4 linked regions of the Homo sapiens genome follow. The protein of the gene in region 1 interacts with the protein of each later gene in a pairwise test. Each region holds a gene or a part of one and is shown on either strand. Other genes may lie near its edges. The genes, in order: NOTCH2NLC, PGAP6, SLC5A5 and FAM221A.

Region 1 (7,985 bases):
AAAAATACAAAAAATTAGCCGGGCGTAGTGGCGGGCGCCTGTAGTCCCAGCTACTTGGGAGGCTAAGGCGGAGAATGGCGTGAACCCGGGAGGCGGAGCTTGCAGTGAGCCGAGATCCCGCCACTGCACTCCAGCCTGGGCGACAGAGCGAGACTCCGTCTCAAAAAAAAAAAAAAAAAAAAAAAAAGTATTAAATAATATGTCAGAAATGGGATTACTCTGACACATAGGGCTTCTTTTATTATAGGATCTCAGTGCATAAAACTATGCCCTCCACCTCTGCTCTGCTGAGGTGCTGCGATTATTAGCTAGCTTTTAGGTAGTCAAGTTGAGTGTTAGTCAAGTTGACTCAAAGGATAGGATTTAGATATTTTGATTTTTAGACAGGTGTTCTTTAGATGCTAAACTAATGCAGTAGAAGAGATTTAGAAGCCTGTTTCTTGGTACAAATCTTAAATCTTCTTAGAGTCTACAGTGAAGGCTTCTTGAATCCTCTTAATTTATTATTGTGTTTTGCTAAGGTACCAATTACAGCACACCCTTCTAAACTTTTGAGTGCTCCTGTGTTTGGCTTGTGGCCAATTGTTAATTTAAACATCACGGAGTTTCTAAGGCAAGGAGATGTTAGCAGTATGTCTGATTGTCTAAACAGCTATCCAGGACCATCCTCTTGCTCCTTGTTTTCTTTTGCTTTGCAATGGGAAGTGACTCCCTGATTTTGCTGCCTGCTAGATAATTTCTCAGCTGAATTCTTCTCTTAAACAAAATCGGAGTAATTTTCTTTCAGATGGTGATGAAATTTAACCTAAAACTATTTTTCCTTTCACTTTCTTATTATTCCTTTTTTTTTTGGTGTGGTGGAGAGGAGGAGGAGAGTGATTCCTAGTCTCTCTTATTTTTCTGAATGTTTAGATTTAAAAAATATTTACCCATAACTTCTTGGGATCTCTCTGCTCCATTCCCACCCTACTGCCTCTCCTGTAGGCTTCTATGACATAGAGAAGCAACTTTTGGTTCACCTGGATTGTAGTTGCTGACTTCAGGACCTTTAGAGAATGTTTAAATTCAGTGGGATATGCTTGGATGGTTCAGAGCAGCCTTACAATACATTTTAAAAATATCACACCCACAGAAATTCTATTTTGCCCACAAAATTTGCATTGATCTAGTTCCCACTCTGTGTTGCCATTCCTAGTGATCCTCCTCCCTACCTCTCCCATTATGGTAGAAAAAAACTCTGTGTCCTGGCTACATCAAAATCTGTTGGGGTGGATCTTGGACTCAGCACCCAGGGATTCTGATAAGGTAAGTTTGAGAATCCATATTTTTTCAAGGTTTACAGGTGATTCTGACAAGTAACTTGGTTGCAACCCACTGATTAAGTACATTTTTTTTTACCTTCAGGTGTGTGTATGAGGTCTTTCTAAATTTAAGAAATTTCCATAACAAATGTAACCTTAGTCATTCCAGTGTTTAACACTTCTGACTCAAGAATTTTAAAATTGCTGACGTAAGAGATATAGAATATAATGTCATTTCTTCTGTTTATCTGGGTGCAGTATGTCTGCATTGACCCTTTAGAAGGGCTTCATATATTTAGATGATATAATAAATTCTCCACCTCTCCTTTTCCCTTTTCTTCTGTTATCTCGTTTTCCTTAAATGTCATTCATACATGTTGTTTTTTGACCCTTTATCTATATACGTCTGCAATGATTTTAGAGTAAAAAACTGCAAGGCGTGATTTGAATAAGGATATAAGAAATTTTACATCATTTTCTTTATATTGTGTTCACAGTCCATAGTTACATGCTTCCTTTCTTGATGTCTCAGTTCGAATGCCTAAATTTGAACTATTAATTTTCCTTCCACCCTTTCCTGATTTTCCTGTTTTTGTTTCCCACCCTTTCTCTGCAAATGACTTGAAACCAAAAGGTCTTCTTTTCTTTCTTTGTCAGCCTACCATATGTGTAGTATTTTGGACAGATCACTGAACTAGGAGCCAGAAGACCAGAATTCTTCTCCAGGTCTGTTATTAATTGGTTTGGTGACCTTGTAGGAGAGCCACTGTTTTGGTCCTCCATTTTCTGATGTTCATTGTTCATGGTCACAGAGCCAATTAGAGTTGAGACTAGAATTCCTTTCTTCTGGTGTCCAGTGCCTCATTCACTGTCCACATTGCTTCCATCTCATGTACAAATGCGCTTATGTGCACAAAAACTCTTATAACATCCTCAAGTGCTTATTGTTAATGCGTACATGAGGAAGGAATCGTGTATTTTCATTTATGTGTTTATTCTAATGCCCATACCCTACCCCTGTACCTGGCATGATGCCTTGGTATCTAATAGGCACACAATAAATACTTGTTCAGTCGAACAATTATTTTTAGCCACTTTCTTATTTTGGACAACTGTGGTACTCCTAGACATTTTAAAAATAGTATTTGCAGGAGTCATGCTTACCTTACATTTGGGGAAAAACCAAATTTTTCCCTTCCCCAGATGTTTCATTTAAACTTGTAATTTTGAATTTCTTTGTGTGTGGGGTTTCTTTCTTTCTTTTTCTGATCACTTCTGCAATTTATAAAGGTCACTTTGACTTTGGAATCTCACTTCAAAGGCACTGCCACCCACCCCCTGCCTCTCACTCAAGTTTGCTTCCACTGCTTCCTGTATTACTGTATTACTAGGCCAGCAATTTCTGTTATTTTGTCCAGAATAGCCACACCTTATTGTAATTTCATCATTTTGGGGACTAGTCATTTTTGGAATACTATTTTTAAAATTAGAGTTAACTAAGTTTATATTTATTTTGATAATTTTTTTTGAGATTTTTTTCATTGAGTTGGATATTGCAAACTTGTACTGGATTGAGAGAATATGTACATTTAGTAAAGTATATTTGCTTTTTTTTTTTTGAACCAAGAGAGTCCCCTGAACACCCTGCTGACAAAAACTAAAGGTGAAATATGATGAATAAATATTTGAGAGAATCACATGGTGTTGAGTTGTCTCTGCCACATGATTTTGATCCTTGAGGGCCAGGTCTGTGCTACACACATTTCTTCTCTGTACTACAGAACTTGTCTGGCATGTGCCCGAAATTCAGAGTCAACTGAGCGGCAGGTCTTAGTCACAGCATCTATGACTCCTGCTTTCCCACCTTTAGAACATTCTATAGGAGAGGCTGATGGTGAGTTGGAGTGTGTTTCTATGTTCTTTTTTCCTTTGAAGAGATAGGATCAGTTGAAAGCTGACCCCACCCACAGACTTTTTTTGCTATCTCTTTTAATTAATTAAGGAGTGGCTGAAATTTTCCTCTTTGTTGACTTATGCATTGGCGGGAACTTTAAAATTCATCTAGTCTTTCTGTCCATCCCATGCTGGATCTGATGTTTACAACATTCTAGTCAAGAGGTACCATATTTTCTCTCTTCTTGAACATCTCTTGTGGTAGACAGCTCTCCACAGCAGTTTATTCCATCTTTGGCCAGCTCTAATTCTTAGAAAGATCTTCTTATATTCAGCTGTAATCCATCTCCTCATGACTTGTCCTCATTGACATCTACTCAGAAATTTGTCTCAGAGTCCTGAGACCTGTGCAGGTGATAGGGACCCAAAGAGATGCTTGTCTGTAGACTTTACTGGGCTGACACCCAGCTCTCCATAAAAGGAGTCAAACCCAGTGAGGAGCATGTCTGGGGTGATTGCTCAGGTAAAGCATCTTAGCCCTACTTGTTTCATACCTCCCTGCACAGGTGGGCACTGGTGGGAGAATCACATTTATCAAGCAGTGTTTCCCTAACCTCTCTTATGATAAGAATAGCTCAGGTGTTCTCATGGAGATTCTGATTCAGTGCATCTGGAATGTCATCTGGGAATTTGTGTGTTCAAGAAATAGCCAGGTGATTCTTACATTAGGAAAGTTTTAGAATCACTGCAGAGTGAATCTGGGAAATCAAAGTGTTTGTTTTTGTTTGTTTGTTTTTTGAGAGTATTAGAGACAGGTTGCTTTGGCTAGATCCTGTGGTCATTTTTCCCCCTTGGAAATGCCTCCTACTTGCTGGCCTCACTTAGTACAGAGAAGAAAGCTGCTATGGTATAAGGTTAGTAAAGTTGTTTGTTTTGTCTTAAAAGAAATTTGCGAAATCCAGCATTTTCGGACTTCTGTTTGTGTTGTATGACTTTGTTGTAAGCCTCCTTATTCCTCCATTAGAATGTTACCTGAGATGTTAGAATGCATAGGAGTTCCACAGCCTTTTTGGTGTCCACTAAAGAATTCTGTCCTCAGCCGTTGCAAATGGTGCTTCCTTTGAGGATTTCTGCTTCATTAGCTCATGAACACATATTTGGTGTCGGCAGTTTCCCTCAGATGTGTTAGTGTGGAGAGATATAAAGGTCACTCATTTCTGGTGGTCCTGCTTTTGGGGTTTCTGGGCTGCTGCAGCAAATGAAATAAGGAAAGGAAAATAAAGGAGGAATCTAGGGCTTCTTGAGCAGAACAAAACAATCTGCAAGAAGGGGCACAGGATTGCTCCTCTCACAAAGACACTTGATAATACTGTCCTTGATAGGAAGAAGGAAGTGGCTTCAGATCTGAAAGGATATGCTCATAGGCTTGAGACGGGACAAACTGCATCACTGGTAGTGGTAGGAGGTTTGCCGTAGATCTGTTTTTTCTCCTGTCTCTCTTTTTTGAGGAGAATATTATCTGTATGGCAGAACATACATTGTGGTCTTAAAAAGGAGAGTAAAGCCAAGAAAGGGGGATGATAAAGCCATAGCTTGGAATAAGAAAAGCAAAGGAATTATTGTATTAATTTGTGTATGTAAATACATAGGTTTCCATGTAATTCACTGGTAGGATCACTAGCCCTTGGCACTAACATTTGCTATCTTTGTAGCTCTGCTGTCTTAGTGGTGTATTGGGGGAGCATTGTGGTGTGTTGTCACACTTAATTTGTGTGCTTCCCTTGGCATCATGTGGTAGCAAGTACAGGGTATTCTACTCTTCTAGATGTGTGGGAATCATTGACCAAGTAGAAAATATGGTCCTGCTCCCAAGGAGCTGACATCATCATGGAGACAAGACAGATAAGCACACAATTAGGAATATGAAATACAGTTATTTTATCATTTATCTATGCTCTCTGAAAGCAGTTTCCTGCAGTCAGGGTGACTCGGATCTATAGGGTCTTGGGAGTAAACTTCAGGTCTTAATACCACCAGGGAAAGGCGACCTCCAGCTCACCCTTGCTGGGCTTGTCTGCTGTCGTGAGCTGTCTGCCATTTTCCTCTTTCTTTGTTGTAATTTAGAAGTATTAGAACTTGGCTTGGGGAAAAGACAAAAACCCCTTTGTCTGGTGAGGGTGTAAATATAAATTTGGCACATGTTGTTGTGTCTATTATGTCTGTTAGTGGGTTTGCGGCAAGAGAGAGTGCTGTGTTCTTAGTCCCGAATGCCAAGCCTGAACTAGGACAAGTTATGGTGGAAATATCTTCCTTGGAAGATGCAGTTCTCAGTGGCAGTGGCTGAAGGAACTTCTCGTCACAGCCAGGCAGTGACTGAAGTGTGGTGTGGACACACCCAGAGTTGCTGCCTCAGGTGGCATTGATTAATCATACTAATATCTCCCTCACCCTTTTGTACTTGTCTTGGCAAAACCCTGTTCTACTAGCTCCCCAATAGTTTGGCCTTTATTAGGTATGATTGAACAAGCTCTTGGGGGTTCACCTTAGTGTCCCTTGCCCCTCTCGCATTTCCAGCCAGCTACGTCGCTCCAGCCATGGTACCCCGGGTCCTCTGGCTAGGCAGTGAGGGGCTGGGTTTTTCTTTCCATTGGACTGAAGCACCTTTCCCTGGAGGCTTGCCTAGGGCAGTTTCTGGTCTCCGAGTCAGTTCCTTCTGCAGGATACTGGCAGCTGGCAGAACTCTGGGTTATTTGAATACATCAGCCAAACATCTTGCCAAGATGGACTCATTGTTGCATAACGACAGGTTGGATCTATGGGTGTTGCAGAACCTGTTTCTGGGTTAAGAGTAGCTCTCTCACCCTTATTATATATGTTTATTCATATGATGAATGTATGTGTGTATTTTGTGAAGTAAGGAAAACATGATGATAATATTGTGGTTGGAGTTAGATACCTTATCCTAAATATGTTGTCTTTTTAACAAATAGCATTCCTTTAAAATACAGTTGTGCTTGATGAATAAGGTGTTGTACAAGAAGCTGTGGTTACATTCTAAAATAAACTGCCTTGTTCTGAGGCAGGCATGTTTTAAAATTGTTGTTTGCTTCTTTTTCATCTCTTTTTATTTTCATCTTTTTTTTTGTGAGAAGATTCTGGAAGTTTTTAAGCCTCAAATATTTTCAATAATCTATTTTAACGGGTACCTAGCAGGGAGAGGTTGTTCTATTGGTATACCTAACCAACATTCAAATAAGAATAATTGAATACTGTTTACTCACTAATCTATTCTGTTGAGTTTCTAAGTATGAATAATCACAAAACTAGATAGTGCTGATATATTAACTTCTCTAAATGGTAAATGTGGTAAGTAGCAAAGACATTTTTGTTTAATTCTCTCCTTACACATGCTTTGGTTCAGACGCTGTCAAGACACATTGAAGTTTGAGGACATGTGTATTTCGATTATTTTATTATATTTTTATTTGCTGTGAATATGGGTTTATTTATTTGCTAGATCTTCTTTAGTTAGAAACATTAAGGGCATTTACTTTATTACAACATTTAAAGTGCATTCTAATCTTCATGAGGAATTTTAGGTAAAAGACCGTATCCTGAGATTCATGCAAGTCTTTGGCATTATGTTACTATTTAAAGTAAGTAATATGTAGTGGCTTCTCTGACATATTCTTTCTAAGAGAGTTAAGGAAAATAGTTGTAACTAAAAACAAACATTGAAACAGTTTAAGGTAGGTTTACGTAGCAACAGAATTATTCGTTATGTTTACAGATAATTAACTCATATTTAAACTTTGCTGATTTTCTCTGGCACCTTTACAAGATTTTTTTATTTTTGTAATATAAAAAGTAATTATGTTTGAAAAAGTAGTTAAGGATGTTTGAAGAATCTAGAAAAGCGTAAATAAAATGTCCACAATCATGCTGCCATTAATTTTTTGGTATACGTCTTTGGTTTTTTACCCTTAGATTTAGAAAAGCTGTTGATTTATTTATATATATATATATATATAATATATATTTTTTTTTTAGTTTATGAACAGATCTACATATATATATATGCACACACACATAATATACTATTGTCAACACTAGGTTTTATTTTTAAAAATCTTTACCATTTGATAAGTGGTAAATATTACTTAATCTTAATATGCCTCTCTCATTACAGTGATATTGAATGTTTTTTCATATCATCAGTGGCGTTTGTATTGCCTTTTTTTCTACTTCTTTTGGTAAATTGTGTCTTTTACTCATTTAATTATTTTCTTACTGGTTTGAAAAAGCTCTTTAAATATTAAGGGTGTTAGTCTTTTGTCTTAAATATGTCACAATATGTATGGAAATAATTAGCAGTATATAACATAACATCAAATTGCTACCAATGTTGATATAAAAATTGTTCATTTCATAGGTTAATTTTTTTTAATCCTTTGGTTTCTAATGATATTGGTTAATTCATTTGTTAACTGCTATTTTCTGTAGCTACTTGAAAGTTCTTATCTGACTGTATCGTAAATCAGCATGCTTTCAGCTGTATATGTCTAGGAAATTGACATTTACTTTAATACTTAATAAAAAAATATGTTGGAGAAAAGCAGTGTGTTCTGGAGTCAAATACATGATTTTGGGTGGGTGACGTAATCGGCTACTGTCCTCCTTTTCTAGATAGCCAAGATTTTTGAAGCATTTAACATCCCTGAAAGGCAGGACTAATGCTATGTCTACCATGCACTGCTAATTCTGACACTTTGACCTAATGGATAAATGCCA
Region 2 (7,990 bases), on another chromosome or scaffold:
ACATCTCCATCCCTGGATGGGTTGGCTGCCTGCTTGGGCTATGATGACTTTGGACACGGCGAGACCGGAGCCCAAATTCCCCTTACCCAGAGGGAGATACTGCATGTGGGAGGGACCCAGGCCAGAAGCCTGGCCAGTCATGAGAACAAGGGGACAGCTGCCCTCTGCGTTCCAAGCGGGCAAGGCTCCTAACTGTCCTCAGGGAACGCACCCACGCCTGGTGCGGGGATGGAGAAGGGCCCGTGGGAGACATCCTGCTCATGGCCCCAGGCGAGGACTCAGGCTCTCACCCCCAGCCCCCCGTGCCAGCTCCAGCCTCGTGCCCTTGCGACCTTGGGCATCCTTCCCTCCCTGGGTCCCAGCCTTCTCCTGGGTAGGTCAGGGCGGAGGGCACATCCCTTTGGGGGCCCCTCCCTCCGAGGTTAATTAACGACAAAGGCTTCAGAAGGAAAAGCACAGTGGACACAGCAGGGGGCGGGACCCTCCCCTCTGCTGCAGCTCCCCCTCCCCACACACTCAGGAGCGCTGCCTAGGTCTCACTGGAGAGTGGCTGGCTCAGGCCCAGGCCCCTCCTGAGGAGGGAGACAGGTGAGCAGCAGGCTCTCCTGCCAGCCTCGTGACCCTCCCATAGAGGCACCAGAAGAAACGATACACCTGCCAATAGCAGCCTGTCGGCAAATCCAGGCCAAGCTCCAGGGGAACCTGGCGTGGCGACTGGGCAGGGGCTGGCCAGGCTCCACCCACGACGCACTCCAGGCTTTCCAGGTGTCTGCTGGCCACCAGGTCCCACCCACCAGGCTGTGGCCTGATAATGTGGGCAGAGAAAGCTCAAGTGCTGGGAGCTGAAGCAGGACAGCCCCCCAGGACCACGGTGTCCCGGAGAAAGCCGGCCTCTGCGGGGGCAGGCAGGGGAGGCCACCTGCAGCACACACAGCCCCTGGGCTGCTGGGGCAAAGCCCTCAGCCCCTCTGGCCCTGGAGCGCCAGCCTGAGGGCACCTAGAACCCAGCTGGTGGCTGTGAAGTTTCAGCAGGTACACAGAGATAAGAGATCTGTTCAAGGTTGTCCTAACACCCAGTCCCCGACTCCCAGGGCTCACAGCCCCTCCAGGCCTCTCCCAGGGCTCTGCAGCCCAAGCTCCCTGCCCAAGTTGCCCACACATACCAGGCTGTTAGGGGTGCTCTGAGCCGAGGTGACCACAGGGTGAGGAGGGCCAGCTACACAGCCCCCTGCCTGCCCCACAGCCCCTCCACGGACACAGGGCTGGGTGGGGAAGGTGGTAATGCAAGTCCCTGGCCCTGTCCTGGGAACCTGAGTGAAGACCCCAGACCCACGTCCTCCAAACCGGGACAGGCACCCATGGGAGACCCTGACCACCCACAACGCCACAGAGCACTTACTCCTCGGCAGGCTGGGAGGAGTGAGGGGCTGAGCCAGCACACCAGGCCTCTCCACTGTCCACACACAGGGGTTCCATCTCCCAGGAACCCCTCACCAGGCCTGAGTTCTGGGACAGGAGAATTTCCTTTGCCAGTTTCCAACGGAGTAAGGTTTTGGTATTTCTGAGGGTCTCACTCTGTCACCCAGGCTAGAGTGCAGTGCCATGAACACGGCTCACCGCAGCCTCAGCTTCCTATGTAACTGGAACCGCAGGCTTACATTACCACACCCAGGTTATTTTTTTTTCTTTCTGTCTTTCTTTTTTTTTTTTGAGATGGAGTCTCGCTCTGTTGTCCAGGCTGGAGTGCAATGGAGCGACTTCGGCTCACCGCAACCTCTGCCTCCCGGGTTCAAGCGATTCTCCTGCCTCAGCCTCCCGAGTGGCTGGGATTACAGGCATGCGCCACCACTGCCGGCTAATTTTGTATTCTTAGTAGAGAAGGGGGTTTCTCCATGTTGGTCAGGCTGGTCTCGAACTCCTGACCTCAGGTGATCCACCCGCCTCAGCCTCCCAAAGTGCGGGATTGCAGGCGTGAGCTTCGCGCCTGGCCATGGAGCAATTTAATCCGGGGCACGGTCCTCGGGGAAAACTGCCTTTCATCTCTACCTGTGCCAAGCTCAGAAAGCAGGAGGCACAGCCCCCGAAAGAAACAGGAGCTCAAAGGAGCATTATTTCAGGGGCAGGGGAGGGGAGGGGCTGGGGGCCGGGAAGTCGGGGAACAGCACCGCATCAGCTGCCGGGCACCTGGGCACCCGCGTGGCTGGGGACGTGTGGGAACTTCCAGCCGGCCAGAAAGGACACGGCCCCTCCAGAGTCCCAGGCCACAGAGGCCGGGGCAAGTCCTCACCATCTCAGGGTGGCCAAGGCCTGACGGTCTCCACACCCACGTCCCTACCCCGTGGAAGGGCTACGCCTTCTCCCTGGTCCAGCCGCCTCCTTGGACCTCAGTCAGGGACGGGGACCCTCAGGGAACAGAAATGCAAAGGGAGCCCGGCGAGTTTCCCAACAAGAGGGGAGAGGGGCGCCCTTTCCTCAGCCCCTCTTCCGCCAGCTGGGAGTCCCTCCTCCCAGAAGCCGGGCCGGCGGCAGGAAGCGGCCGTACCAGGGCTGGGGGTCACTGCGGAAGGGCTGGAGCCATGACGCCCACGGGCCCCCGCTACAGGGTCTAACAACTTTCTCCCGGCTCTGCCCCTCTCTCAGGCCGGACCCGGCCGGTGAGCTCACGGCCCAGCCACTCCTCCCAGCTGGAGTCCCGGGCAGAGTCCCCTGGGCCCCTCCACTTCCCCGCGCCGGGCGCGCCGGACCTGGGCGCTCTGGGAGGAGGAGGGAGGGGAGGGGGCGCTCCAGGGGCCGATGTGGCCCAACCCCGATCGGGGGACCGAGGAGGAAGCGCGGGGTCCCGTCCGCCTCGACCCCTAGGACACGAAGCGCCCCAAAGGGCCACTGTGCACCCCCAACCCGCGGCGGGGACCCCCAACCCCGCGCCGGCGCCAGATGAGCGCACAGGTGCGCCCGGGGTGTCACAATCCCGCCCCGCCCGCAGCCCCGGCCCCACGCCCCCGATGGCGCCCGCGCCTCCCGCTCACCGCTCTTCCCGCTGTAGCCGGCGGAGGCAGGCGGGGGCCGGGCAAGCAGCAGCAGCAGCAGCGGCCCCGCCACCACCGCGGCCACCGCCTCGCCCCCGGTCCCGGTGCCAGCCCGGCCCATGGCTCCGCGCTCGGCCCGGCGCTACCCGGCCCGCGTCCCGCGCCGCCGGCCCCCGCCGCCGCCCGGGCAGCCTCTGCCGCCTCCGCCTCTGCCGCCTCCGCCTCTGCCCCCGGCGCCCATGGCCCGGCCGGTCCCCGCCGCCGTCGCCCCGGGCACTTCCGCCCGCAGGCCCCGCCCCGCAGGCCGAGCCGGGAAGGCGAGGGCGGGGTCGGGGGGCGGGACCGGGGGGGGCGCGGACGCCGGGGGGAGGGGTCACGTGGGGCGCCGGTAGGGGGGAGGGGTCACGTGGGGCGCGCGGGGGACGGACCGGGGCGCGCGCGGTCCGGGGGGACGCTGGAGGGAGGGCGCGGGATGGAGGGATCGCGGGGGTCCCAGGACGGAGAGGTCGCGCCGGGCGCGCTCGGAACACGCAGGAAATTCTCCCCGAGGCGTGGGCTCCGCGGGGCTTCCCCGCCGGTTCGCTGAGTCCCAGCTCCGCTCGGCCGGGACCTCCGTGGCAGGCTCGGGGAGCCCGCGGGGGGCAGAGGCGCCGACCTCCGCCTGGGACCGAGAGGAACCCGCGCCCTGCCCTGCCCCGCCCGGCGCGCGTGGGCCTGAGTCAGGCGCCTCAGCACGGGGACCCCCGGGCCGGCCTTCACGCCGCAGAGCCGCTGCAGGTGCGTGTCAGATCCACGCTTTTATGCACAGACGAGAAGGCTGCTTGTGTTTAGGGACTGTAGTACCCGATCGGGGTGGCGGTTCACACGGGTGCGTGGCATCAACTCCCGGCGCTTTGCACCTGGATGGATTCCCACCATGTAAGATTTGAGCCGAAAAAAGGAAGCGATAAAGCCTAGAAAACTCGGGGAAGCTTTTTCCGTCTTAGGGCCAAGTCGGCTTTTCCAAGCGTGGCACAGAGTCCAGAAGTTCCGCCGCGTCGTGGGTGGGAGGGGGGTGGGGGCGTCTGCAAAGCCAAACTGCATAAGCGAAGTCCAAAAGACGAGCCCCCGACTGGGAGGTGGGGGACACAGCTTGCAGCTCACACCGCAGAGCTCACCTTAATAAGACTAGTAACAGTGCAGTAATAAACAGCTCTAAATCAATCACAGAAACGCTCCCCTAGAAAATACTGAAGGACAGCTGCCAGGGATACGCTGATCCTCCTCCCTCAGCGCAGAAATGCAAATTAAAAACTACTCCAGCTACTCCGGAGGCTGAGGCCAGAGAATCGCCTGAACCCGGGAAGCGGAGGTTGCAGTGAGCCGAGATCGCGCCACCGCACTCCAGCCTGGGCGACAGAGCGAGACTCCGTCTCAAAAAACAAAAACACAAAAACAAAAACAAAAACAAAAAACAAAACACTAAAGTGTCCTTCCCAGGATGTGAGGGTAAAAAGTTTAAAAAAAAAAAAAATTAAAGGAAAACCCCATTAAAGTGACTTCTTTTTCCTTTCACCTAACACATTGGCAAATAAAAACTGTACTAACAGGTGAGACTGTGGCCCACAGACACTGCTTGCAGCAGGCAGAGGATGTGGGAGCCTCGTGGGAACCCCCCCGACTTGTCCACTGAAGTAACAGCAGCAATGACCTTCCCTCGGGAATTCCACCTCTGCGTTTTTCCCTCCAGGTACGTTCACGGAAGTGGCACACTGCATGCGTCCAGTGAGTCAATGTGGCACCGCCTACATGCGTGTCACTGGCCGGTGGGACATTCAAATCATTCATACGGGGTCTAAACGAGACAGAGCGTGGCCGAGACAGGAAAGACAGGAAGCGCTGTGCTGCTTGGAAATGGTCCACCAGGTGCAGCAGTAGCTGCAAGAAAGGAACAGGAAGAACGGTGTGTTCAAAGCTCTACCATTTGTGTAGAAAAGGGAGAAAAACACGTTTCCTTTGTGTGTGTCAAAGGCATCGAATGTCTGGAATGATCCAGCACCGGCTACACTGGTTGACCTTGGAGGAGGAGAGGCGGGGTGGGGATGGGGATGGCCGCAGGGACCATACCTGTTTGTACCTTTTGAACGCCGCAGCGGGTGGTGAGGGTTTACGGAGCGGGGGAGGGGAAGCTGACTCCACGAGCCCAGACCCCTGAAGGCCAGAGCAGCGGAGGTGGAGGGTGTTGGCCGGGGAGGAAGGAAGCCCCGGCTGAGCCTTAAAGAGACCCTTTGTTTCCCGGGAATCCCAGCTGGGCCGTCCTCAGCCCCGACTGAGGGGAAAGGGGGGCTCCCAGGGGTTCTCATTTTAAAGGCACGGAGGTCAGATTGCAGATTTTGCTGAGCCGTGATTTGAGTGTGCTGTGCCGGACTGCACCCAGCAACCAAGGTCAGCACCAGCACCCAGGACTGCTCCAGACCCAGTCCCTGCTCCAGGCTGGGCCCAAGCCCCCCTCCTCCCACTGCCCTCCCCTGAGTGAGTCACCTTAGTCTGAGGTTCCTGTGCCCCAAGTCACCCACCGGAGAGGGAGAGAAGCGGCAGAGCCCCCACTTCCAGTGCTCCAGCTGAGGGCTGGTGAACTTGAAGGTGGGTAAGAATCCCCAGACGGAAGTCCAGAGACGTCTGCTAAGTCACAGAGTGTTGGCAATGGAGAGACTCTTCTGTAACAGGAAACACAGCTCAGTCAGGCTACTGGTCAGGGAAACAAAACAAGCCACTTTGTCAAAAAACAGCCACGCAGCCCTTGCCACAACAGATGCTCACACTTTGCTGGCAGGCATGTGAACCCCCTCAACCTTCTGAAAATTATTGTGCCAACATTAAAATGTAATGGAGAGGGCCGGGCGCGGTGTCTCACGCCTGTAATCCCAGTACTTTGGGAGGCTGAGGCCGGCGGATCACGAGGTCAGGAGATCGAGACCATCCTGGGCTAACATGGTGAAACCCCTTCTCTACTAAAAATATAAAAAGTTAGCCGGGCGTGGTGGCAGGTGCCTGTAGTCCCAGCTACTCCAGAGGCTGAGGCAGGAGAATGGCGTGAACCCAGGAGGTGGAGGTTGCAGTGAGCCAAGATTGCGCCACTGCACTCCAGCCTGGGCGACAGAGCGAGACTCCATCTCAAAAAAAAAAAAAAAGTAACGGAGAGGCCGTACGCGGTGGCTAATGCCTATAATCCCAGCACTTTGGGAGGCTAAGGTGGGCGGGTCACCTGAGGTCAGGAGTTTAAGATCAGCCTGGCCAACATGGCGAATTATTTTTGTCTCTACTAAAAATATAAAAATTAGCCAGGCATGGTGACATGAGCCTGTAATCCCAGCTACTCAGGAGGCTGAGGCAGGAGAATCACTTGAACCCGGGAGGTGGAGCTTGCAGTGAGCAGGGATCAGGCCACTGCACTCCAGCCTGGGCAACCAGAGCAAGTCTCCATCTCAAAAAAAAAAAAAATGTAATGGAGAACACTAAGGCCTAGAGACAGACACACAAGGATGTTTGCAGCAGAACTGCTTGTATTTGGAAAAACCTGGGCGCTCCATGAGGGCAATGGGTAAATAAATCATGCTATAATATACTCTGATTTTTTTTTTTTTTTTTTTTTTGAGACGGAGCCTCACTGTCGCCCAGGCTGGAGTGCAGTGATGCGATCTCGGCTCACGCAAGCTCCACCTCCCGGGTTCACGCCATTCTCCTGCCTCAGCCTCCCGAGTTGCTGGGACTACAGGCGCCCGCTACCATTCCTGGCTAATTTTTTTTGTTTTTAGTAGAGATGGGATTTCACCCTGTTAGCCAGGATGGTCTCGATCTCCTGACCTCATGATCCGCCCGCCTCGGCCTCCCAAAATGCTGGGATTACAGGCATGAGCCACAGCGCCCGGCCTACTCTGATTTTTTTTTTTTTTTTTTTTTTTTGAGATGGAATCTCGCTCTGTCGCCCAGGCTGGAGTGCAGTGGCGCGATCCTGGCTCACTGCAAGCTCCGCCTCCCAGGTTCACGCCATTCTCCTGCCTCAGCCTCCCGAGTAGCTGGGACTACAGGCGCCTGCCAACACACCCGGCTAATTTTTTGTATTTTTAGTAGAGACGGGGTTTCACCATGTTAGCCAGGATGGTCTCGATTTCCTGACCTCGTGATCTGCCCATCTCAGCCTCTCAAAGTGCTGGGATTACAGGCGTGAGCCACCGCGCCCGGCCTACTCTGAATATTTATGCAACTTTTAGATGGGTCTATAAATGTGTCTTCAGAAGGAATGTCAGTAAAGTGAAAAATCCAGTTGCTGGATAACAGGGACGCATCGTATTTCCAAACAAACAGGAAGACCCTCAAGCCCCCTCCCCAGGTCCCCCTCTAGTGAGCCTGGGTGAGGGTAGACTCCAGCTGCCTGCAGCCTGGCCGGAGGGGAGGGTTGCTGGGTGTGGGAGCAGCTTTCCACAGTCGGTGTGCTCTTCGCCCAGCAGCAATAAGCATTATTATAGTTGTCTTGGATAAAAATATCAAAAGTTAAATAAAAGCAAAAAAAAAAAGCCGTAATCCAATTTTCTCCAAATAACCACCCTGTGCACCTCCTGCAAATGCTTCCTGTGTGCAAGACTGTGTGAGGACCCCTCTCTCTCTGTGGACACTCTCCCAGGCTCTGCAGGTTGAAAGGAGTTTCCCTCTGTCTGTTCATGGCCACCTGGTAGACATGGGAGACCCTGTCTTCCCACTCCGCCCCGAGTTTCCTGAGGGCAGGAGATGGGTCTCTCTCACTCTGTGGTCAGGCAGGAGGAGTGCAGACCGTAACCCTGTCTTTCTGACCCAGTGCCCTAACCTGTCAGCATGAACCACACCACAGGTGCCCAGACATCAGAGTTTCACAGACAGAAATAGTTTCCCCAGAGTTTTGGGGCTTTTTTAGGCTCAACTATCATGCATTATTATTCTTTCATAAAAAA
Region 3 (7,715 bases), on another chromosome or scaffold:
GGAACATTGGCTACTGCACAGATCTGGGCAGACAGTAATGGAGGTCTGTGCTAGGCCATGGCAGTTGGGGGAAGGAAGCAGGGGGTGAGGTTGGAACAGCTTTTGAGTGCAGGCAGGGGATAAAAGAGGAGGTTCAAGTCTGTCTCTCCCAACCTGCAGCTCAGGAATGGACGCCAGCCGACCCGCCTTAGCTGACAGCTTCTATGCCATCTCCTATCTCTATTACGGTGCCCTGGGCACGCTGACCACTGTGCTGTGCGGAGCCCTCATCAGCTGCCTGACAGGTAGGTAAACAGAGCATGTGGCCTCAGAGGTCATCCCATTCATCTCTCTGCCTCAAGGCTCCACCCAGCAGGGAGGGGAGAAAGGACGCTCCCATTGGCCAAACTGCCACTGTGTGCTGTACACATTTGTACCTTATTATTATTATTATTATTATTATTATTATCATCATCATCATCATCATCATCATCATTTTTGAGATAGAGTCTCACTCTGTCACCCAGGCTGGAGTGCAGTGGTGTGATCTCAGTTCATTGCAACCTCCACCTCCCAGATTCAAGCGATTCTCATGTCACAGCCTCCCGAGTAGCTGGGATTACAAGTGTGTGCCGCCATGCTTGGCTAATTTTGCATTTTTAGTAGAGACGGAGTTTCGCCATGTGTCTCGAACTCCTGGGCTCAAGTGATCCGCCCACCTCGGCCTCGCAAAGTTCTGGGATTATAGGTGTGAGCCACTGCACCTGGGCTGTACCTATTTTTTTAAAAGGAAAAAAAAAGTTTGTGAGGAAAAAAGAAGTGTGTGTGTATATATACACATACATACACACTTTTATGTGTATATATACATAAAAGAAATTATGAATATATATAAAAATTATGACTATATATATACATAAAAGAAAGTGTATATATATATAGTTTCTTTTAAAGGGACGGGGTCGACTGGGCGTAGTGGCTCATGCCTGTTATCCCAGCACTTTGGGAGGCCGAGGCGGGTGGATCACCTGAGGTCAGGAGTTCAAGACCAGCCCGGCCAACATGGTGAAACCCCGTCTCTACTAAAAATACAAAAAAATTAGCTGGGCATGGTGGCAGGCGCCTGTAATGCCAGCTACTTGGGAGGCTGAGGTAAGGGAATCGCTTGATCCTGGGAGATGGAGGTTGCAGTGAGCCAAGATTGCGTCACTGCACTCCAGCCTGGGCAAGAGAGTGAGACTCCATCTAAAAGAAAGAAAGAAAGAAGGAAGGAAGGAAGGAAGGAAGGAAGGAAAGAGAAAGAGAGAGAGAGAGAAGGAGAGAAAGAGAGAGAGAAAGAAAAGAGACAGGTCTCACTGTTACCCAGACTGGAGTGCAGTGGCACAATCATGGCTCACTGCAACCTTGAACTCCTGAGCTGAAAGCAATCCTCCCACCTCATCCTCCCGAGTAGCTGAGACTACAGGTGCGCGCCAACGTGCCCGGCTCACATTTACACCCTTTAAAGCTATGTTGCTTTCTTGACAACCCTGCACCTCTCAGAGCTTGCCCTATTTTGCAGAGGCAGAAACGGAGGCATTGCCTGCAACTCCTCTCCCCAACAAGATTAAGTCCTCAGTAGAGGATATGGGTTGGGGCGGGCGGCGCTATCCCTGGTGCTGAAATATCTTCTAAAGCTGCCGGTGACTCCGCACTTGTTAGGGAATTCTAAATTCCACGGAAAAGTAGAAGGAGACAAAGAGGGGAAAGTCAGTAGTGATAACAGTACCTGCTCACACTTCTTGAGTCTCAGACTTCACAGTCATCAGGCCTTTATCGAGTCCTCCTCTGTGCTGGACGCTATTTTAGGCACTGGGGATGCAGCAGTGAATGGAACCGTGTGCTGGACCCTCCCAGCCATCCATTAATGTCTTTGTTTTGTTTTGTTTTGTTTTTTTGAGATGGAGTTTCACTCTGGTCGCCCAGGCTGGAGTGCAATGGTGCGATGTTGGCTCACTGCAACCTCTGACTCCCGGGTTCAAGCAATTCTCTTACCTCAGCCTCCCGAGTAGCTGGGATTACAAGCGCCCACCCCCACGCCTGGCTAATTTTTGTATTTTTAGTAGAAATGGGGTTTCGCCATGTTGGCCAGACTAGTCTCGAACTCCTGACGTCAAGTGATCCCCTGCCTTGGTCTTCCAAAGTGCTGGGACTACAGGCGTGAGCCACCGTGCCCAACCTCCAATGATGTTTTTGTTTTGTTTTGTTTTGTTTTGTTTTAGAAACAGGGTCTCACTCTGTCACCAAGCTGGAGTGCAGTGGCACAATGACGGCTCACTGCAGCCTCGACCTCTTGGGCTCAAGCAATCCTCCTGCCTCAGCCTCCCAAGTAGCTGAGACTAGAGGCACACACCACCATGCCTGGCTAATTTTTTAATATTTTGTAGAGATGGGTTCTTGCTATGTTGCCTAGGCTGGTCTCCAACTACTGGGCAACTCTAAGCAATCCTATTGCCTTAGACTCCCAAAGTGCAATTATGAGCCACCATACCTGGCCTCACTGATGTTTTATTACAACTTCACTGTGTAGATGAGGAAACTGAGGCTCAGAGGCTTGCCAGGGTCCCTTAGTGGGACTGGAGCCTGTTAGACTTCATAGACCAGGGATCTCCTTTCTCCTTCCCAGGACCTGGTCTCCAACCCCCATGACCCCTTCACTGAATGCCTGGATTTCTCCATTTCTCCCCGCCTCTCAGGCCCCACCAAGCGCAGCACCCTGGCCCCGGGATTGTTGTGGTGGGACCTCGCACGGCAGACAGCATCAGTGGCCCCCAAGGAAGAAGTGGCCATCCTGGATGACAACTTGGTCAAGGTCAGTCTTAGGCTGGGTTCCCAGATCTAGAGGCAGCCAAGTGACTTTAGGACGTGACCACAGCTCAGGGGAGGGACATGGTATATCAGCACCTTTCTCCATCGCTCATTATCTCCAGTCAAAAGACTCTATTGGGAGCTGATTCATCCTCAACAGTTTTTATCTCCCTTCACAAGGACTGAACAGAGTTTAATACTATTCCTTTTTGTTTGTTTGTTTTTTGAGACAGAGTCTCGCTCTGTTGCCCAGGCTGGAGTGCAGTGGTGCAATCTCGGCTCACTGCAACCTCCACATCCCGAGTTCAAGCGATTCTCCTGCCTCAGCCTCCTGAGTAGTTGCTACTACAGGCGCATGCCACCGCACCCAGCTAATTTTTATGTTTTTAGTAGAGATGGGGTTTCACCATGTTGCCCAGGCTGGTCTCGAACTCCTGACCTCAAATGATCCACCCACCTTAGACCCCCAAAGTGCTGGGATGACAGGCATGAGCCACCGAGCCCAGCCTCATCTTCAAGTTTTTGTTATCTCCCTTCATAAGGACTGAACAAAGTTGAATACTATTCCTTTTTGTCGTTATCTGTTTTTACAGTGACTTCCAATCTTTGGCAGGTGAAACTGGTGTGCTGTTAGGGTATTGATGTAAAGTCTCTTCTTAAAATAAAATTACTTAATTCAAAAGTGAGTCAACTTGGGGAAAAAATCTTACATAAGAAACACAACAGATGGTAAACCGATTTTGGCTAAAACCGCGTGGTTGCTTTGTGAATTCCCAGAGTTTGGAAAATGCTGTCCCTGGGGGACCTGATCCCATGCCTACCCCTGTTTTGGAATCCCTGTTCCATTCTCTCATTTATTGAGCACCTGCTGTGTACCCAGTCCTGCTCTGGGCTATGGTCTAAGACCCCCACCCCACCCTCATCTAGCAGGGGCAGGTGAAAACTAAAAAGAGAAACATGTAGGGTCTGTCTCAGTATGTGATAAGCATTCAAAAGATAATACAACCAGATGCTGTCAGGCCGGGCACGGTAGCTCACGCCTGTAATCCCAGCACTTTGGGAGGTTGAGGTGGATCGCTTGAGGCCAGGAGTTCAAGACCAGCCTGTCGAACATGGCAAAACCCTGTCTCTACTAAAAATACAAAAATTAGCCGGGCATGGTGGCGTGTGCCTGTAATCCCAGCTACTCAGTGGAATGAGGCAGAAGAATTGAACAATTGAACCCGGGAGGTAGAGGTTGTAGTGAGCTGAGATCGCGCCACTGCATTCCAGCCTGGGTGACAGAGCAAGACTTCGTCAAAAAGATAGGAAAGCAGGAAGGGAGGGAGGGAGGGAAAAGAAGGAAGGAAAGGAAAGAGCCAGGCGTGATGGCTCACCCCTGTAATCCCAGCACTTTGGGAGACTTAGGCAGGTGCATCACCTGAGGTCAGGAGTTCGAGACCACCCTGGCCAACATGGTGAAACCCCATCTCTACTAAAAATACAAAAAATTAGCCGGGTGTGGTGGTGCATGCCTATAATTCCAGCTATTCGGAAGGCTGAGGCAGGAGAATCGATTGAACTCAGGAGGTGGAGGTTGCAGAGAGCAGAGATTGTGCCATTGCACTCCAGCCTGGGCAACAACAGCCAGACACTGTCAGAAAGAAAGAAAAGACAGAGAGAGAGAGAGAGAGAGAGAGAGAGAGAGAGAGAGAGAGAGAGCAAGCTAAAAAGAAAAACGTGTAGGGTCTCAGCATGATAAATATTCAAAGGATAATAAAACCGGATGCTGTGATGGGGAGCAACTTTAGCCAGGGAAGTCAGGGGTGGCCTCTTGGGAGAGGTGACATTGATTGACCCTGAGTTAGGAGAAGAGGAACCAGCCACAGACAGGAACAGCTTTGACTGAGAAGGGGATTGGGAGGGGAGGGGTTTGCCTGAAGGTGTTTAAAGCTCCCTCCAGCTGCCCTAGAGAAGTGTTTATCTTTTCTTTCTTTCCTCTTTTCTTTTCCTTTCTCTTCTTTTCTTTTTTTTCTTTCTCTCTCTTTTTTTGTTCTTTATTATTTTATTTTTCTTTTTTGTTGTCTTTGTTTTATTTGTGTGTTTTTTTTCTTTTTTGTCTTTTTTTTTTTTCCTTTTTTTGAGATAGGGACTCACTCTATTGCCCAGGCTGGAGTGTAGTGGCATGACCATGGCTCACTGCAGCCCCAACCTCCATGGTCCGAGAAATTCTCCCATCTTTCAACCTCCTGAGTAGCTGGGATTATAGGCATGCACCACCGAGTCTGGTTAATTTTTTTATTTTTGGTAGAGATGGGGTTTTGCCATATTGGCCAGGCTGGTCTTAAACTCCTGGGCTCAAGTGATCTGCCCACCTTGGCCTCCCAAAGTGCTAGGATTACAGGGGTGAGCCACCGTGCCCGGCCAGAAATATTTATTTTCTTGAAGGTGAACAGGCAGAGAAGCAGAGAAAGGAGGGAGGAACTATAGCAGGCATCTGAGAAAGCGTTGATGGCCTGGGCTGTAGGTGACATGTGAGTGGGGAAGAGAAGCGCATGGAAATTTTGGAGGCAGAGCGGGCAGGACTGGCCCGTGCACTGAGCAAGGGGATAGTATGCAATTCTGTGCACGCCCCGTCCCGCCAGGTCATCAGTAGCCCATCTGGGAGATGAGCTGACACGGAACAGGGTGGGGACAGGGTCTCTGATGGGGTCTCTTTTTCCCACTTTTCCCCAGGGTCCTGAAGAACTCCCCACTGGAAACAAGAAGCCCCCTGGCTTCCTGCCCACCAATGAGGATCGTCTGTTTTTCTTGGGGCAGAAGGAGCTGGAGGGGGCTGGCTCTTGGACCCCCTGTGTTGGACATGATGGTGGTCGAGACCAGCAGGAGACAAACCTCTGAGGACAGGGCCAGCCGCGGGACTGACACCCTGGGATGGAACCTCAGGATGGGCCAAACCCAGACAACGGGCCCATGGCCTTGGGCTCTGATTGGCTGGATTGCCTTGTATGCAAATGAGTTCAGGACTACAATACCCTACCCTATGGGGAGGCCCTGCCTCCGGGAGGTCATTTTTTAAATCCAGCCCCTTGCTTCAACCGTCCCCAGTATTAGACGCTGCAGCCCTGACGGCTCCCCCCAAATAAGGCTGGGTTTTTCTCTCTCTCTTTTTTTTTTTTTTTTTTTTTTGAGACAGGGTCATGCTCTGTCACCCAGGCTGGAGTGCAGTGGTGTGATCTCGGCTCACTGCAACCTCTGCCTCCCAGGCTCAAGTGATTCTCCTGCCTCAGCCTCTTGAGTAGCTGGGATTGTAGGTGCCCACCACCATGCCCAGCCAACTTTTTGTATTTTTAGTAGAGACAGGGTTTCACCATGTTGGTCAGGCTGGTCTCGAACTCCTGACCTCAAGTGATCCACCTGCCTCGGCCTCCCAAAGTGCTGGGTTACAGGCGTAAGCTACCATGCCCAGCCTACCGTTTTTCTCAATCTATAATAGAAAGCCACCACGCCCAGGTAATTTTTGTAATTTTGTATTTTTGTAGAGACGGGGTTTTGCCATGTTGGCCAGGCTGGTCTCAAACTCCTGATCTCAGGTGATCCTCCTGCCTTGGCCTCCCAAAGGGCTGGGATTACAGGGGTGAGCCACCGCGCCCCACCTCTTTCTTATTTTCTTCCTGGGATTGGGGAGGGGATGATTCAGACCCCACATGGCCTCCAACCTTGGCCCACACACCTGCCATGGCTCCCATCATCCTGAGCATGCTAGCGTCCCCTCCTCACCTGACAATGGAGGCTCTCGAATTGGGTTGTGTCCCCCCAAAATTTATGTCTACCCAGAACCTCAGAACATGAGCTTACTTGGAAATAGGGTCTTTGCAGGTGTAACTGGTTAAATTAAAAGAGGTATTACTGGAGGAGGATGGATGAATCCAGTGACTGGTTCCTCATATGAAGTAGAGAAGAGATGCAGAGAAACACATGGGGAAGATGCCACGTGAAGACAGAGGCAGTGGTTGGATCAATGCATCTACGAGTCGGAGAACCCAAGGATTGCCAGCAACAACCAGAAATCAGGAGGGGGGCATGAGATGCATTATTTCTTAGAGCCTTTAGAGGGAACATGGCCCTACTGACACCTTGATGTCAGACTTCTGGCTGCTAGAACTGTCAGAGAATAAATTTCTGTTGTTTGATGCCACCAGGCCTATAGTGGTTTGTGACAGCAGCCACAGGAGCTCATACACCTTTTTTTTTTTTTTTTTTTTTTTTTTTTTTTTTAAGGCAGAGTCTCGCTCTGTCGCCCAGACTGGAGTGCAGTGGTGCGATCTTGGCTCACTGAAACCTCTGCCTCCCAGATTCTCCTTCCTCAGCCTCTGGAGGAGCTGGGATTACAGGCATGTGCCACCATTCCCGGCTGACTTTTGTATTTTTAGTAGAGACGGGGTTTCACCATGTCGGTCAGGCTGATCTCGAACTCCTGACCTCAAGTGATCTGCCTGCCTCAGCTTCCCAAAGTGCTGGGATTATAGGCGTGAGCCACTGCGCCCGGCCTCATACACACCTTCTGATCCCGCTTCTCTCCACCCCTTGGAGACCTGGTCCTCTGTGCCCGCTGTTGGGATTGGACACCTTTAGATTTGGACTTAAAACTGGCCATTACAACTTTAAAATCGATGACTGGACGGGTGTGGCGTCTCATGCCTGTAATCCCAGCACTTCGGGAGGCTGAGGCGGGCAGATCACTCGAGGTCAAGAGTTCAAGACCAGACTGGCCAACATGGTGAAACCCCATCTCTACTAAAAATACAAAAATTAGCCGGGTGTGGTGGCGGGCGCCTGTAGTCCCAGGTACTCGGGAGGCTGAGGCAGGAGAATCGCTTGAACCTGGGAGGCAGAGGTTGCAGTGAGAT
Region 4 (6,937 bases), on another chromosome or scaffold:
AAGGCAGCTGACCTGTGAGTCAGTGGGCCAGTCATGCATCTATCATAGCAGGGGGCAGAGCTGGAGGTGGGTTCCCTAAGCTCGGGGACTCAATAGAGGAAGTGACAGGTATTGAGGGAGTCTGTACTTATAGTCGGAGCAAGCATGAGGCTACCAGGCCCTATCAAGCTGAGAGACCAACTTATTAAATACAAGTTGAGCATTTGAGATCAGTAGCACATGCAGCCGCCAGAGGGCAGCACAAGGACGTGCGTGGGCCAGAGCCCCTTCTCCCATGTTCCCACATGCCCCATGGAAGCCACTGGGGCCAGGAGCGGGGAGAGACTGAGCAATCGTCCCACACTGTTTATGTTATAAGATGGGGCTAACTTCTAACCCAATTAGGACCACCTGTGGTGTAGAGATAGCAGTGTAGGGGAAAGGTGGTGGTTTGTGAAGAAGATAGAGCAGCTACACATTTTCTCTGCAGCTTCCTTCCTTTTGGTCCAAAAGTCAATATATTTAGCAATTAGTCTTTGTAGTTTATGGTTTGGAGTTGTGGATGTTTCCTCATTTCATTGAAGAGGGTGCTTTCTTCTTTATTTTTCATACTTTGTTTTTAGATGGTTTCCTAGTAAGGAATAGAGTAAAAATACACTTATTCTACCCTTTTCAGCCAGAGGTTCCTTATTGTGAATGTCTTGCTTTTGATAGTGTTTTATAACTATTATATATTAGGGTTTTGAACTTCTATGCTAACATAGGTACATAATATTCTTTTTTTCTGTGAAAAAGTTCTCAGAAATGTGCAGAAGAATACTTTTACCCATTTGCTTTTACTTTATATGTCAGACAAAAATCTAAATAAAAAGAGTCTCACAGTGTTGCCCAGGCCGGATCCAGTGAAGTGATGTGATCATAGCTCACTGCAGCCTCAAATTCCTGGGCTCAAATGATCTTCCTGCTTTACCCTTCCAAGTAGGTAGGGCTACAGGCACACACCACCATGTCCAACTAATTTATGTATTTTTTTTTTTTTGGTAGAGATGGGGTCTCCCTATGTTACCAAGACTGGTCTTGAACTCCTGGCCTCAAGTAATCCTCTTGCTTTGGCTTTCCAAAGTGTTGGCATTACAGGCATGAGCCATTACACCCAGTCTAAAATTTTTTTTTTATAGAAAGAATTTCTAATAATTCTGCTGAGGTTCCAATTTATTTTACATTAGAAGTAATAACTTGTTTGTATCCCTGTAAATATTTAATTTTTATTCTCCATGTATTGTTTTCTCAGGTGTACCTTCAGTTGAATTTTTAGAATCTCCCATTACGGCAGTAGACAGCCCATTCCTAAAAGCATTTCAAGCATCATCTAGTTCTTCTCCAGAAACGTTAACAGATGGTAATGAAATGAAGTTTAGAACTGTTTTTGGATGTAGTAAATTGGAATATGGAGCTTTGATTTGTTTTCTAGGCATCTCTCTTTTTTTCATTATTACGATAATTTAACTTCAAGTTAAGCTATCATTTTACTTTCTTTTATGTAAGCCACACACTGAGAAAAAGCAAGCAACTTCATTTTGTATTGGGAAAAATAGCTAACTCCGAGAATGTCGAGGATTCTGATACTACTATAATTTGAAGTTTTAAACCTTGTTCTGGTACATGCTGTTGCTCTGGTGTTTGAATAAGAGGGCCTTCTGGCGGCCTAATTGCCTTTGGGTTTTCCCAAAGAGGCGTAATCCAGTGATAACCATAGGTTAGCAGGGTTTTATCATTTATAAATTAAGAGCAAGTAGAATTCATTTTTAAGCACCAGTATTCTGTATTTTCCTTACTGAAAACAGGAAGAATGAATTTGTATGACTTATTAGGTATTTAAAATTTAGTATTTTAGAATATTTTAAAATGAGAATTTTCTTTATCTGTATTTTCATACACCTAGACGTTCCCCACAAGGAATTTTAAGGCTGCTTGCCTTAAAACATACAACTTAGTACATAATGATAAAATATATATACAAGTAAGAAGCCAAGAAAAGGACACAGCTGTGGCAGCTTTCAAGGTTGATGTAATTGCTTTGTTTAAACTTCAGTTTTGACTGAGTTTAGTGGCAGCCAAGACACAGAGGAAAGTGCAGTCAATTAAATGCTTTCTTTATTAGACAGGAGGAAGCCCGAGTTCCTCAGTGCTAATGAATGTTACACCAATGCTGGAATTTTTTTTTTTTTTTTTTTTGAGACAAGTTCTCTCTCTGTTGTCCAAGCTGGTGTGCAGTGGTGTGATCATGGCTCACTGTTACCTTGAACTCCAGGGCTCAAGTGATCTTCCTGCCTCAGCCTTCCACATAGCTAGGAGTACAGGTGTGCCCCCACACCTGGGTAATTAAAAAAACTTTTTTTTTGCAGCAGCAGGGTCTTGCTATGTTGACTAGGCTGGTCTCAAACTCCTGGCCTCAAGCTAGCCTCCTGCCTCAGCTTCCCAAAGCACTAGGATTATAGCTATGTGTCACTGCTCCTGGCCTGGCATGCTGGATTTTAAGTCAGTATAGTGACCCTCAGTGATTAGTGACCAAGGTAAAAGCTTTTTTTCAGCAAATACAGCAGACAGTTGCTTGTTTCTGATAGTCACCTTTTCCTTTTTTTTTTTTTTTTTTTTTTTTTGAGACAGAGTCTTGATCTGTTACCCAGGCTGGAGTATAGTGGTGTGATCTTGGCTTACTGCAACCTCCACCTACCTGGCTCAAGTGATCTCCCACCTCAGCCACCTGAGTAGCTGGGACTATAGGGATGCACCACCATGTCCAGCTAAATTTTGAATTTTTTGTAGAGACAGGGTTTTGCCATGTTGCCCAGGCTGGTCTCGAACTCTTGAGTTCAAGCAATCCACCTGCCTCCACCTCCCAAAGTGCTGGGACTACAGGCGTGAATCAGTGCACCTGGCCTGATAGTCACCTTTGAAGAGTTGTGATATACCATTTTACTAGATAAATGGTAATATGCCATTATAATGCAACTCAATGTAGATGAGTCTGGAAGAGGCTGGGCTCAAATGGTCCCACATGATCCAGGGATAGACCCAGAGTTTCCAGAGGAATGGGTGGATAACACTTATTCAAATAAGAATCCCTTCTTACTCTTCTCAATAAAACTTTTGTCAAAGATAATCGACAGACTGTAGCTATACTCTGTGGTGATTGTCTGGAGTTACATGTTGCTGATTGAGGGTGAATTCATATGCTTTAGAAACTAGAAGCGCAAGTGTTCAGGTTGCTAGTCTGCTTTGGAAATGAAGGGACCCAGTGAAGACCTTCACTCGCAATGAAGGTGTACTTTTCTATGCAATTAGGCTCTTGGCTACCTGCCAAGAAAACCAGATGTTTTCCTACTGAAGCAATTTCAAAAGTTCCTTTCAGCATATAAATTAGTGCTTGATCCATTTGACAAAGTGATTACCGTAAAAAATGGATAAAATAGTTCAGTTTTGAAAGATTTTGAAGCAGGTACTATCATTACTTATGGTTGCCTATACCAAGCCTCAATAATTACTTTTGTGCATTATCTCAAAGTGTAACATGGATTTCTAGTTATAAAATGTAAAAAGTAGTTGGACAAAACTAAGTGTACTCTTATACGGAATAGCTATATGGTGCTATTTAATATGAACTGTGGAATATTTGGAGAATGTTTGCTAGTGAAAAACACTTTTGTCCTGTGATGCCATTCTCTCTAAAAGAGAATGAGGTAGTAGGACCAATTATTCATTTAGGCCATTTTTGGTTTGAAAAATAAAACATTATCACCGAGCAGGAGAAAACTTTTCTTTCTTTTATTTCAGGGGAATATGTAATGATATAAATACATTACTTAGATTTTTTTTCCTTGTTAGTAGGTACAAGTAGTCAAGTTTCTTCATTAAGGAGACCTGAAGAGGATGATATGGCTTTCTTTGAAAGACGATACCAGGAAAGGGTAGGTTTTTGAGGAAATTCAGTTGCACTAAGCATTTACTTGTAGCAAAAGCACTAGAATGATTATACATTGAATGTGGAACATCCTTGAAAATAATTTATAAAGTCTTTACTTACAGTTGGTGTTAGGCCTTGAGGCTTATTAGAATACACAGAAACAGGGCTAAAGAATAACATGATATTTAATACACTGGTTGATTTATGAAGGCCATAAAGATTGGATAAATACGCAGATAAAATTGTCAGTAATAAACATCAATATCAGCAGATTTGTAAATTATATGTATCTTGAATTCTTTTTTTATACATGTACCTTTATTTTTTATTTAAAAATATTTGCCAAATAAAGATTGAATATATTTTGAATTCTCTTTTTTTTTTTTTTTTTTTGAGACGGAGTCTTGGTCTGTCGCCCAGGCTGGAGTGCAGTGGCGCGATCTCGGCTCACTGCAAGCTCCGCCTCCCGGGTTCACGCCATTCTCCTGCTTCAGCCTCCCGAGTAGCTGGGACCACAGGCGCCCACCACCATGCCCAGCTAATTTTTTGTATTTTTAGTAGAGACGGGGTTTCACTGTGTTAGCCAGGATGGTCTGGATCTCCTGACCTCGTGATCCACCCGCCTCGGCCTCGCAAAGTGCTGGGATTACAGGCATGAGCCACCGCGCCTGGTGCCTATTTTGAATTCTTAATATGTATTATTTATTCTTCTTAGAGGCTTTTAGGTGTATCCAGACTCGTTAAAATTACCCAATACACATCTGGGCACAGTGGCTGCTTTTTTGCTTTAACTACAATGGAGGAGGAAAAGACTTTCAGAAAGGTAACTGTGGGAATATAGAAACCAGAATTATAGAAAACTATCCTTAAAGCAGTCCACGTTCCAGAGAGAATCCAGCTGGATTAGGTGCATTATGTAACTCTGTAGGGAATGTGCATAGGCTGGATGTAAGTTTAGTCATTTTAAGCACTTGTAATTTTAGTGGCAATTGAAATTGTTTTCTCTAAAGCAATATTCATATATTACTTTTATTAAAATGCTTCTGTAAAATTAAAATAAAACCATCTGAAAATGTGTAATTATGTCCCTTTAACAGATTTTGGCTTTAGTATTTAGCAGCTTAATAACTGTGGAATGGCTGTGACATGAATCTGAATGAGTTTTCTGCAAGTTTTTTTTCTTTAGAATGGTTTACAAGTTATTATATCAATAAATATGTTAAATTTACAGATGAAAATGGAAAAGGCTGCTAAGTGGAAAGGAAAAGCTCCATTGCCATCAGCTACAAAACCTTCATGAAGACTATTGGAGAAATTAAAACCATCATCCAAGTATCTTTTTCATGTTTATTTAAATGTAATAATACAGTTTATTTTTCCTGAAATTATTTACTTTTTTTTTTTACTGTATAAATGTCTTTTGGGATGTTTCCTTAATTTATTTAAATAACTAAAAATGCCTATTACTTTTGTCAAAACTCATAATTTACTACTTTGTATGTACCTTTCTTTCTCCTGACAAATGAGGTTATTTTATATGAGTCTGTCTGAGAGTACAGTAAATGTTTTTAGTACATAATAATTTAACTGTTTCAGGTATTTAAAAAATTAAAGATATTATCAAGGGTTTTGGACAAACATATGAGCCATTTTTTTGTCATTCAAAATAGTAAGTTAAAAACAAGAGAACAAAAGAAAAAAATAGTTAAAATCATTAATTTTTTTATTTTTCAAACTTTGTAATGTTATGTTTTCAAATAAAAACTATCTCAAAATTTTACAACCATTTTCTAGTGATATTACTGATTTTTTTTTTCAATCTTTCTCAGGCTGAAGATATCTACTGATTTTTACGTTGTGTTGTCAACCACCCATTGTCTATGACTGTACTGGACACATCTTGTGTGCCACTGCAAATCCTCTTGGCCCCGTTTCTTACTCCATTACTGCTGTGGAACACTTTCCAGCAGGCTTCTGATAGCGGAAGCCATTTGATGGCACCTTGTCTTGGGCGCATGTCATGGCTCTCTTGCTTCCTTCTGCAGGGATCTTCTGACACTGTGGCTTGGGATGCCCACTAGAACCCCACTGTATGATACATATGCAGCCCAAAGATGTTGGGGAGCTAGTGACTTTGGGGCCACTCTTGATTAATGGGAGGTGGAAGCCCAATACATAAGTGCTCTCCCGTCTGTTGGGAAGACAATTCTGAAATGCATTTCATAAACTTCCTCAGAAAGTCCTATCGTTGAGCTCCAGTCACCCATAGCAGTGGCCAACTCAATAATAATATATCCTTATCTTTCTTTTTTCCTTTTCCACTCCTCTACCCCTCCCTCTAGTTCCCTCAGATCACTTCCCAAATAAACTACTTGTATAACAACACTTACAGGTATAAGAACATTTGTCTTAGGCTTTGCTTTTGGGCAAGGGATAAACTCAGGCTAAGATGGTTAGTACCAGGAATGGCCTTTGACAGCAAAGACTCAGGATAGTATCCTGTGACTGGATCAGTTACTGCAGTGGATTTGGATGAAGTGCAGGTGGCAGGTGAAGTGCTAGGTTATGCAGTCGCTGTGCCACTACAGTGAAATGGGACTAGTGGAAATTATAAAGATTAAGTATTCACTTGCTACTGTGAAATGCTTTAGGAGCTTTGAAAAAGAAAATGACACAGGCTCATGATAGCCATTTAACTCAAGGAATGCTGTGAAAGCCAGAGTCCCTCTGTAGCACTTTCAGGAAACTCATCTGCAGATGCAGGGCAGACTGTGCTGCCAATGAGGCCCAAATCTAATAGTAAAGGTGGCAGGGCTGCAGAGGAGACAGAATGCACAGCCTTGCTAGTCCCCAGCAAAGTCAGTGCTGACACAAAAACAGTGGAACCCTAAATCACAGGATGGGACATTTGTGTTGGTGAGCCTGAGAATCTTGAATCCTCAGGTTTCCATGAACTCTGAGCTGGCACAAGCCGTGTCCTCCAATTTTCTAGTG

Evidence for each region.
Region 2: the proteins of NOTCH2NLC (region 1) and PGAP6 interact in binary tests that used the Homo sapiens proteins (3 or more experiments, as listed by UniProt).
Region 3: the proteins of NOTCH2NLC (region 1) and SLC5A5 interact in binary tests that used the Homo sapiens proteins (3 or more experiments, as listed by UniProt).
Region 4: the proteins of NOTCH2NLC (region 1) and FAM221A interact in binary tests that used the Homo sapiens proteins (3 or more experiments, as listed by UniProt).

Annotation. Positions count from the first base shown.
Region 1 is NC_000001.11:149,392,908-149,400,892, forward strand, and holds part of NOTCH2NLC (notch homolog 2 N-terminal-like protein C), read left to right. Parts: intron 1-7,985. UniProt on the Homo sapiens protein: Human-specific protein that promotes neural progenitor proliferation and evolutionary expansion of the brain neocortex by regulating the Notch signaling pathway.
Region 2 is NC_000016.10:378,675-386,664, forward strand, and holds the start of PGAP6 (post-GPI attachment to proteins factor 6 precursor), read right to left. Parts: upstream 3,305-7,990; 5' UTR 3,148-3,304; coding exon 3,027-3,147; intron 1-3,026. UniProt on the Homo sapiens protein: Involved in the lipid remodeling steps of GPI-anchor maturation. Lipid remodeling steps consist in the generation of 2 saturated fatty chains at the sn-2 position of GPI-anchor proteins (GPI-AP).
Region 3 is NC_000019.10:17,888,172-17,895,886, forward strand, and holds the end of SLC5A5 (sodium/iodide cotransporter), read left to right. Parts: intron 1-159; coding exon 160-284; intron 285-2,714; coding exon 2,715-2,830; intron 2,831-5,541; coding exon 5,542-5,706; 3' UTR 5,707-7,003; downstream 7,004-7,715. UniProt on the Homo sapiens protein: Sodium:iodide symporter that mediates the transport of iodide into the thyroid gland. Can also mediate the transport of chlorate, thiocynate, nitrate and selenocynate.
Region 4 is NC_000007.14:23,696,922-23,703,858, forward strand, and holds the end of FAM221A (protein FAM221A), read left to right. Parts: intron 1-1,270; coding exon 1,271-1,378; intron 1,379-3,864; coding exon 3,865-3,947; intron 3,948-5,174; coding exon 5,175-5,243; 3' UTR 5,244-5,729; downstream 5,730-6,937.